Linked DNA regions of Homo sapiens: region 2 is linked to region 1. The links come from fine-mapping of genetic effects on gene expression. Tissue or cell type: monocytes. Region 1 holds a variant in brackets; the other region holds the start of a gene. All regions are shown on one strand. Distances are between the middles of the regions.

Evidence for each region. PIP is the estimated chance that this variant, and not a neighbour inherited with it, causes the effect.
Region 2: XAB2 starts here. The variant in region 1 is fine-mapped to the expression of XAB2 in monocytes (CEDAR, PIP 0.95).

Annotation. Positions count from the first base shown.
Region 1 is chr19:7,076,348-7,081,284 of GRCh38, forward strand. ZNF557 (zinc finger protein 557) reads left to right here. Exons shown (of 8, transcript NM_024341.3): 5 at 34-160. Among named protein-coding and RNA genes, the nearest start is that of ZNF557, 9.1 kb to the left of the region's middle. RefSeq lists a silencer at 1,777-1,977. The variant CT/C (reference allele first, on the strand shown) is at 2,893.
Region 2 is chr19:7,627,608-7,632,033 of GRCh38, forward strand. XAB2 (XPA binding protein 2) reads right to left here and starts at 1,938. Exons shown (of 19, transcript NM_020196.3): 1 at 1,870-1,938; 2 at 543-691; 3 at 121-244. The coding sequence starts at 1,920. It overlaps PET100 (PET100 cytochrome c oxidase chaperone), which reads left to right and starts at 2,186. Exons shown (of 4, transcript NM_001171155.2): 1 at 2,186-2,253; 2 at 2,966-3,052; 3 at 3,216-3,239; 4 at 3,866-4,349. The coding sequence starts at 2,227. The coding sequence ends at 3,949. It overlaps PCP2 (Purkinje cell protein 2), which reads right to left. Exons shown (of 4, transcript NM_174895.3): 4 at 4,008-4,201. The coding sequence ends at 4,082. It also overlaps a transcript of STXBP2 not described here. RefSeq lists enhancers at 1,850-1,969, 2,230-2,279.

The DNA of each region.
Region 1 (4,937 bases):
CTTGGCTAAGCCGTGATGTTTGCAATGCTTTAGGGCTTGGTGACCTTTGAGGATGTGGCCGTGGAGTTCACCCAGGAGGAGTGGGCATTGCTGGACCCTGCCCAAAGGACACTGTACAGGGACGTGATGCTGGAGAACTGCAGGAACCTGGCCTCACTGGGTAAGCCTAATGTCATTCCTGCATTTATTTAATGACTCAGGAAGTCAGTCTTTTTTTTCTTTTTTTAAATTGAGGTAACACAGGACACAAAAGTCACCATTTAAACTATTTTAAAGTGTCCAATTTGGTGGCTTTTCGTAGGTTCACAGTGTAGTACAGCCATCACCACTAATTCCAGAACATAGTTGTCACACCAAAAATAAGCCCCATAGTCATGAAATGGTCTCTCCCCAGTTCTCCCTCCTGAACATCTTGGCAGGCACTAATCTTTCCGTCTCTATAGATGTGTCTCTTCTTTTTGAGGGGGTTGTTTTTAGACAGTGTCTCCCTCCGTCACCCAGGCTATAGTGCAGTGGCGTGATCCTGAGTAGCTGGGACCACAGGTGCGGACCACCACGCCCAGCTAATTTGTTTATTTTTTGTAGAGACAGGGTCTTGCTATGTTGCCCTGGCTGGTCTCAAACTCTTGGGCTCAGGTGATCCTCCTGCCTTAGCTTCCCAAAGTGCTGGGATTACAGATGTGAGCTACCATTCCTGGCCCAATTCTTGACATTTTATATAAATGAAATCATACAAAATGTGGTCTTTTGTGTCTCACTTTTTGCTTAGCATAATGTTTTCTTTCTTTTTTTTTTTTTTTTTTTTTGAGATGGAGTTTCACTCTGTTACCCAGGCTGGAGTGCAGTGGTGTGATCTCAGCTTACTGCAGCCTCCACCTTCCAGGTTCAATCTGTTCTCCTGCCTCAGCCTCCTCAACAGCTGGGACTAAAGGCATGCGCCACCACACTCAGCAAATTTTTGTGTTTTTAATAGAGATGGGGTTTCACCATGTTGGCCAGGCTGGTCTTGAACTCCTGGCCTCAAGTGATCCACCCACCTCAGCCTCCCAAATTGCTGGGATTACAGGGATGAGCCACCACGCCTGGCCGATGTTTTCAAAGTACAGCTGTGTTGTAGCACATAGCAGAACTTCATTCTTTTTATGGTTGAATATTATTCCGTTATGTGTATATACCACTTTTTATATATCATTTCATCAGCTGATGGAAATTTAGCCTGTTCTCATCTTTTGGCTATTGTGGGTAGTGCTGCTATGATCATTCATATACAAGATTTTGCTTGAGCACCTGTTTTCTCTTGGGTATATACCTAGGAGTGGAACTTCTGTGTCCTGTGGTAATTCTGTGTTTAATGTGTTGAGGAATGTCCAAACTTTTCTACAACTGCTACACCATTTTACATTCCTACCAGCAGTGCATGAGACCAGCAACGTATTAGTTTCTCTGCATCCTTACCAACATTTGTCTCTTTTCCTTTTTTTAAAAAATTATGATAGCCATTCTTGTGGTTGTCTGTCTCATTGTGGTTTTTATTTCTATTCCCTAAAAAAAATGATGAGATTGGCCATCTTTTCTTGTGCTTGTTGGCCATTTATACATCTTTTTTGAAGAAATGTTCATTCAAGTGCTTTTTCCATTTGGGGGGCATTGTTTGCCTTTTCGTTATTGAGTTGTAAGAGTTCTTTATATGTTCTGCATCCTAGACCTTTATCAAATATATCATTTTCAAAGATTTCCTCCCATTCAGTGGATTGCCTTTTTACTATCTTGAATGATAGTTTTGCAGGAGATAGAATTCTTGGTTGATATTTTTCTTTCAGTACTTGGAGTATGTCATCATCCCACTGGCTTGCGGCCTCCATGGTTTCTGGTGACAAATCAGCTGTTAATCTTGTACATGATGACTTATTTCTCCCTTGCCATTTTTCAGGATAGTCTGTCTTTGGCTTTTGACAGTTTAATGTTAAGGTATCTCAGTATGAGTTTTTAAGTGTATCCTATTGGGAGATCCTTGAGCTGCTTTGATGTGTAGACTTGTAATTTTCATCAAATTTGGGAAAGTTTGGCCATTATTTTTACATATATTCCTTTTTTTTTTTTTTTCCCGGAGTCTCACTCTGTCGCCCAGGCTGGAGTGCACTGGCACGATCTCAGCTCACTGCAACCTCTGCCTCCTGGGTTCAAGCAATTCTCCCTGCCTCAGCCTCCTCAGTAGCTAGGATTACAAACGCGCACCACCACAGCTAGCTAATTTTTGTATTTTTAGTAGAGACAGGGTTTCACCATGTTGGCTAGGCTGGTCTCGAACTCCTGACCTCAGGTGATCCTCCCACCTCGGCTTCCCAAAGTGCTGTAATTAGAGCGTGACCCATTGCACCTTGCCAATTTTTCCATATATTCCTTCTGCTCCTTTCTCTGTCTCCTCTCCAGTAGCAACTCCCATTATGTGTATTCAGATGTTTGATGGTATCTTCTGGGTTTCTTAGGCTCTGTTCATTTTTTTCCCTTTATTTTTAATTTCTGCTCTACAGATCAGGCAATCTTAATTGACCTGTCATCAAGTTCACTAATTGTGTCTTCTGCCTGATCAAGTCTTCTGATGAACCCCTCTAGTACATTTTTCATTTCAGATAATATATATTTTTCAATTTTAAAATTCCTATTTGGCTCCTTTTTATAATTTCCATCTCTTTATGATTTTCTCTATTTGGTGAGAATTCATTCTCATGGTTTCCATTAGTTCTTTGTACACAGTTTCCATTAACTCCTTGAGCATATTTGAAATAGTTGATTTGAAGTCGTTGCCTAATAAATCCAATGACTAGGTTTCCTTATGGAAAATTTCTGTTCATTTCTTTTTTCCTATAATGCAGTTTCATTCATTTTTTGTTT[CT/C]TTTTTTTTTTTTTTTTTTGAGATGGAGTCTCACTCTGTCACCCAGGCTGGAGTGCAGTGGTGCAATCTTGGCTAACTGCAAGCTCTGCCTCCCAGGTTCACGCCATTCTCCTGCCTCAGCCTCCCGAGTAGCTGGGACTACAGGCGCCCACCACCACGCCTCGCTAATTTTTTATATATTTAGTAGAGACAGGGTTCACCGTGTTAGCCAGGATGATCTCGATCTCCTGACCTTGTGATCCGCCCACCTTGGCCTCCCAAAGTGCTGGGATTACAGCCATGAGCCACCGCGCCCGGCCCATTTTTTTGTTTCTTTACATGCCTCATAATTTATTTGCTGAAAACTACTTTCAGAATATTACAATATGGCAGTTCTTTAAATCTGATTTCCCCCCTCCCCAAGGTTTGTTGTAGTTGGTATTGTTTCTTTGTTTAGTGACATTTCTGAACTAATTTTGTAACGTCTGTATTGGTCATGTGTGGCCACTGAAGTCTCTGTTCTGTTAGCTTAGTGTTCAGCTTGGGATTAATTTGTCAGAGATTTTTTTAAATACCTGGAACCCAAAAGATGACCAGTCTTTGCCAATGGATCTGAATTACATGTTGGAGCATGCCTTCAAAACTCAGCTAAAGCATCTTACAACTCTGACTTAGCCTTCAGTTCCTTCTTATGCAGAGCCTGAAGGTCAGTCAAAGGTGAGGGCTTGGTGCCTTCTCAGATCTTCTCTGAGCATGTGTTCATCCCTGGGTATGAGCATGGCCTTCTAGAAATGTGTGGAGGCCGGGCGCAGTGGCTCATGCCTGTAATCCCAGCACTTTGGGAGGCTGAGGTGGGCGGATCACCTGAGGTCAGGAGTTGGAGACCAGCCTGGCCAAGATGGTGAAACCACATCTTTACTAAAAATACAAAAAAATCAGCCAGGCGTGGTGGCAAATGCTTGTAATCCCAGCTACTTGGGAGGCTGAGGCAGGAGAATTGCTTGAACCCAGGAGGTGGAGGTTGCAGTGAGCCGAGATCACACCACTGCACTCTAGCCTGGGCGACAGAGCAAGACTCCATCTTGTGGGGGAAAAGAAGGTGTGGAAAGATGCTCTACTCCTCAGAGCATCTTGTTCCCAACTTCTCCTCCCAGGTTTTTTGGTTAGTCTTTTGTTTGCTTCACAGTTTTCCCTTGCCCCATTGAGCAGTGGCTGATTTGCCTTTAGATGTGTTGGGACACACTTCCCTCTCCACCCTCCAGCTTCCATAGGTGTAGCCTCTTCAGACCTGGGAGAGTTTGGAGTTACACAAATAAAGGGAAGCCCTTTGATCCAGCCCATCAGGGAGCCAGCAGACAGGTCAGAAGAGAACAGCCACAGGTTTTTGAGAATAAGGTGCATTCTGTTCCCTTCAGCACTAGAAACACAGGTTGTTGTCCTCAAGGCAAAATGGGGAATAGAGTGTGCAGCTAGAGTCAGTTAAAATGTCACAAATCTCTCTTACCCAGATTCAGCTGTTTGTCTTGATTAGGCATTCTCCTGTGGCTGTAAACTTTTGATGACATTCAAGAGCTCCAATGAAGTTGATTCTGTGTTTGCCCATTTACATACTGTTTTTGTGAAGGGATGGAGTTGTGGAGTTCCCTACTCCACTACCTTCACTGACATTACTTCGTTTAAGTCCTTCATAAGCACCTCTGTTCCTAGGTCTGTGCTGGGATGTGGGAGTAGTGAAGAATGCAACAGACATGCCCCCCACCCTCATGGAGCTGTCTGTCTAATGCTATCTGTATGAAATGAAGATCTCCTTCTTTCCCTGACTATATATTCTCTGTAGTTAAATCTTTTGGGCTTTCAGATTCTGTATTTAAACCTGGACAGGGGCTCCTGGGACCAGTTATCCTGCAACCACCCTAGATATTGCTTGTGGGGTGTGTGTGTGTGTGTGTGTGTGTGTGTGTGTGTGTGTGTGTGTGTGTGTGAGTGTTTAAGACGGTTGCTATATTTATTCAATTTTGGCATAATTATTTCTCTGCTCCTGAAGTCACACCTCTTCACCTTCAGA
Region 2 (4,426 bases), 550 kb after region 1:
GAAGCAACAGGAATCCAAGCCCCCATCCCTAACATGCTGAGCCCAGCCCCTGTCCCCGCCCCACCCACCACCATGGACTGAGCTCCACTTCCCGATTCATCCCCTCGCCGAGCCCCAAACCTTGTGCATGAACACAAAGGCCCTCTCATGACAGTTGTTGACATCTTCATAGGCAGGGTCGGTCACACAGCGATGCTTCACCTGTGCCCGACGCGCCTTCAGGTATCGGTACCAGAGTTTGTAGCTGGGGAATAGGAGGGGACAGATGCTGATCGGTCAGCTTTATGGACACCCCCAGAACCATTTGCCCTGCCCCAGTTGGCAAATGTGGGAAGAAGGGGTGTGGGAGGGGTGACATGTCTCAGCAATGACAGGGACAGACTGGGACATCAGAGAAGGTGTGCTGACCCATCAAGGGATGTACAGGTCAGTGATGAAACACGAAGCAATCACCCGGGACCCGGGACCCACTTGGCAGTTTTGTTATAACTGGACCAGGTGGGGTGGGGGCTGGTGGGCAGGGCAGCTGGAGCCATTCCCACCTGCAGGGCAGCAGCTTGAGTGCCCGCTCGTATAGCTGATTGAGCCTGGGCTTCGGGGCGCCCTGTTTGAACTCGATGTAGCGAAGCCAGCATTTGACAGAGAATTGGTTCCGCATGATTTCCTCCTCATAGGGGAGGTCCTCTTCCTCCTGCCAGGGCCAGGGAATGGGAAGAAGAGAGGCCTACCCTCAGAGCCTGTGTGCAGCACCATCCCACTGCTGGGGCTCAGGTCCAAACTCCGGACTTTTACCTAGATCCCACCACCCACCAAGGAAGTCAGGTCACCAGATGCCCAGGCACCAAACCAGATGCCCGACACCAAGACAGTGGCCCAGACCTTTACCCCTCAGAATTCAACTACCCAAAATCGAACCCAAATCATCAGACTTCTCAGTCATTAGGGCTCTGGGCCAGGAATGAGTCCGCATCACCACTCGCTTTCTGCCCCAGATGGTCAGACTCCTTAGATACCAAGGCCCTGGCCCAGATGCCAGTCCTGGACACCAGACCCCACTTCTTCAAAACGTGCCTCTTCCCAGACACCAGGCCTTTGGCCCCTCAGACTCCCACTGTCACCATCTGACCCATCTCCACCCCAGGCCCAGATGACCAGATCTTTACCCCAGCCACCAGGGCTCTCAGGTCCAGATTCCAAGCCACTAGCCCCGCCCCCAGGATCCCACTAGCCAGCGTCTAGCTCAACTCTGCCCCAGAAATTAAAAGCTAGGCCTTTATCTCACAGGAGGAGTTATACACCAGAAGCCAAGCCTTTAACTCTGCACACCAAGAATCTGGTGAAGATGTCACGCCTCTACTCCAGAGAGTAAGTATTTCACTGGCCATCGCCTGACAAGCTCCACATCACCAGGGTTCTTCTAGCCTGGCCACCACCCCAGAAACTGTCATGCTGCAGTCCAGGCCTAGAGACCGCTATCCAGAAAACCAAGCCTTCATCCCAGAAACCAGAACCCTGGCCTCGTAAGCAAGCCTTTACTTCAGACACCGATCTTCACCTCTCAAGGTTCAGTTATGCGATCTTCCTCCTCTCCCATTCCCTGCACGCCCCCATTTCCGCCCCTGGTTCGGGAGGCTAGACGCTTCCCTTCGACAGTGGTTTTCTACTCAGACCCGAAGATACAACACCATATTTTTACTCCTGGACAGTTCGGTGCGGACATGACGATCCGGTCTCTGGCCCATTAGGGTTCCCAGACCTTGGCCTGGCAGTTTCGGCCTAAATCTCCTTGCCGACCCAGCCTCGATCCCCTGCGGCGTCCAGGTCCCAATGCCCCAACGCAGGCCACCCCCGGCTCCTCTGTGGACTCACGAAGACAAGGTCCGGCCGCTCGGGCCGCGAGAGTCGCGCCATCACCACCATTTTTCTGGATGCCCAGGTACAGGAGAGAGTCGCGCGCTTATGACGTCTACCACTGACGGCCCGCCCCTCCGAGCCAGACCCGTTTTCTATTGGTTAAATCATTTTTGACGGACAGGCCCACGTTATTGACTTCTTTTCGACGACGCCAGCGACCGGAAGCAGAATAGAGGCGCCAGAAGATGCGCCATCAGGATACACATTGGCCAATCAGCTTCAGCAATGGAGCGTGCAAAACACCAGTGAGCTTCTGTCTTGCTGGAGGGTCGGCTTTGGGCGGAACTGGCTTTGTTGACCGGGAGAAACGAGATGGGGGTGAAGCTGGAGATATTTCGGGTCAGTGGACACAGGAGTGGGTTGGGAGGCTGGGCAGGGGATCTTCCTGGATCTGAAGATGAGGTTGGAAATGGGGGGACTTCAAAGGAAGAGGGAGCTCCAAGGAGAAAGCTCTTAAGATTTGAGAGGAACCTTTCTGGTTGGAAATCCAGGAGAGGGGACGCTGGGCTGGGGGGGTTCTCGGATTTGGGCTTCTGGGTTTGGGGGCTGTGAGAGGGCTGGTCCGAGGAAGGACCTCAGAGAGGGGTGAGCTGAGAAGGGGGCTCTAAAGAAGGAAGACTTAAGATCCTGGGGGAGCTCTCGGGCTCGTGGTGGGTGGGTGTCTATGACAGGGAGATTCCTAGACTTCGAGAAGTGGAGTTGAAGAGTGACGCCTCCTGGGTTTGGGGGTGCTCCCGGGATCTTAAGTGGGGATGGGTAATGAGGTCTCGAGGAGATGCTTTTGATTGTAGCTGGGGCGTCTGTGTGTCTGTCTGTGTTTGAGAGGAAGACTCCAGCTCAGAGGGAACTTTCAGGAATGAGGCCTCCTGGATTATAGGAGTTAGGTTTTAGGGTGCGAGGTTTCTGTACCCTTGGTGGGAGTTCTGGGATTCTTGGGTCGGCCGTAACGAGGCGCTTCTGGACTCTGCAGTAGGATGGGTCCCCCAGGCTCTGAGGAGCCTCTGCACATTGCTTGGGGGGAGCTCACCTCACCCACCCTCTGCCATTCCAGATGATAATCTACCTCACTTTCCCTGTGGCTATGTTCTGGGTTTCCAATCAGGCCGAGTGGTTTGAGGACGATGTCATACAGCGCAAGGTGGGCATAAGAGGAGTGTTTGAGGGTTCATTCCAGGGGTGGGAGAGGGTGTGGGGCAGCAGTCTGCTGGGGACTAATGTCTGCCTCCCATAAGCCGACCCTGCCCTGATGTGGGGCTCTGGAGGCCTTTGGCTCGTGTCCCATTTGTGACTTTTCCTTACAGAGGGAGCTGTGGCCACCTGAGAAGGTAAGTGATCTCTTCTTCCTGCCAGAGGGATGGAGGAGGCTGGATTCTTGTATCCGGGATGGGTTTTAGATGAAAATTTTAGGCCAGGCGCAGTGGCTCATGCTTGTAATCCCAGGGCATGGGAGGCTGAGGTGGGTAGATCACTTGAGGTCAGGAGTTCAAAACCAGCCTGGCCAACATGGCGAAACCCCATGTCTACAGAAATACAAAACTTAGCCAGGCATGGTGGCAGGCGCCTATAATTCCAGCTGCTTGGGAGGCTGAGGGAGAAGAATCACTTGAACCCAGGAGGTGGAGGTTGCAGTGAGCCCAAGATCACGCCACTGCACTCCAGCCTGGGCAATAGAGTGAGACTTTGTCTCAAAAAGAAACATTTTACTCTCAGCCATGAGTAAGGAACCGAGAGCAGAGGAGTAGATGGTTTCCTTATTGCCTTCTCCTGGAAGAGTGAAGCGGATCCCACGCGGACCCCTTTGTAATTGGCAGGGGGCTTCCAGTGAAGACACTGAACCCTGAAGCCGTGGTCTGGGGCAGGGTGGTGGGAGAGGTGGGCGGGGGGGGGTGGTCCCGGCTCTGAGGTGTGTGCCCCTCCCCCCTTCCTGTCCCACCCGCTTCTCCACCCCTAGCTTCAAGAGATAGAGGAATTCAAAGAGAGGTTACGGAAGCGGCGGGAGGAGAAGCTCCTTCGCGACGCCCAGCAGAACTCCTGAGGCCTCCAAGTGGGAGTCCTAGCCCCTCCCCTGATGAAATATACATATACTCAGTTCCTTGTTATTCATTTAAGTGTTTTATTCTTTTATCAGTTTTTGGGGGCCGAGTGAGACCCAGGATGCCTCAGGCCCTCAGGGGGCTTGTGTCGGGGGCTGGGGGCTGCTGTTCCGACGGAAGCCGAGAGCGGTCGGGTCCTGAGGGGTGAGCAGGGGTTGGGGACTGAGGGTCCCAGCTCGTTTCTGTGCTCCGTCCTGTGGATGAAGAGGGGTCAGCCAGGGGGAGGGCTCAAGGGCAGTGCCGGCCACAGGTGGCGAACAATGGAGAGAGGGTGCAGGTAGCCACCGTGTCCCACCTCATTGTGAGCACTGGTCTATGTTTACCCTCAATATCTGCCATTTAGGGTGGCATTTGAGTGTGAGGTGGCAGGTCTTGGGGCCCTCGCTGGGATCTTGATCAGAACCCAAGCTTCGTGTATG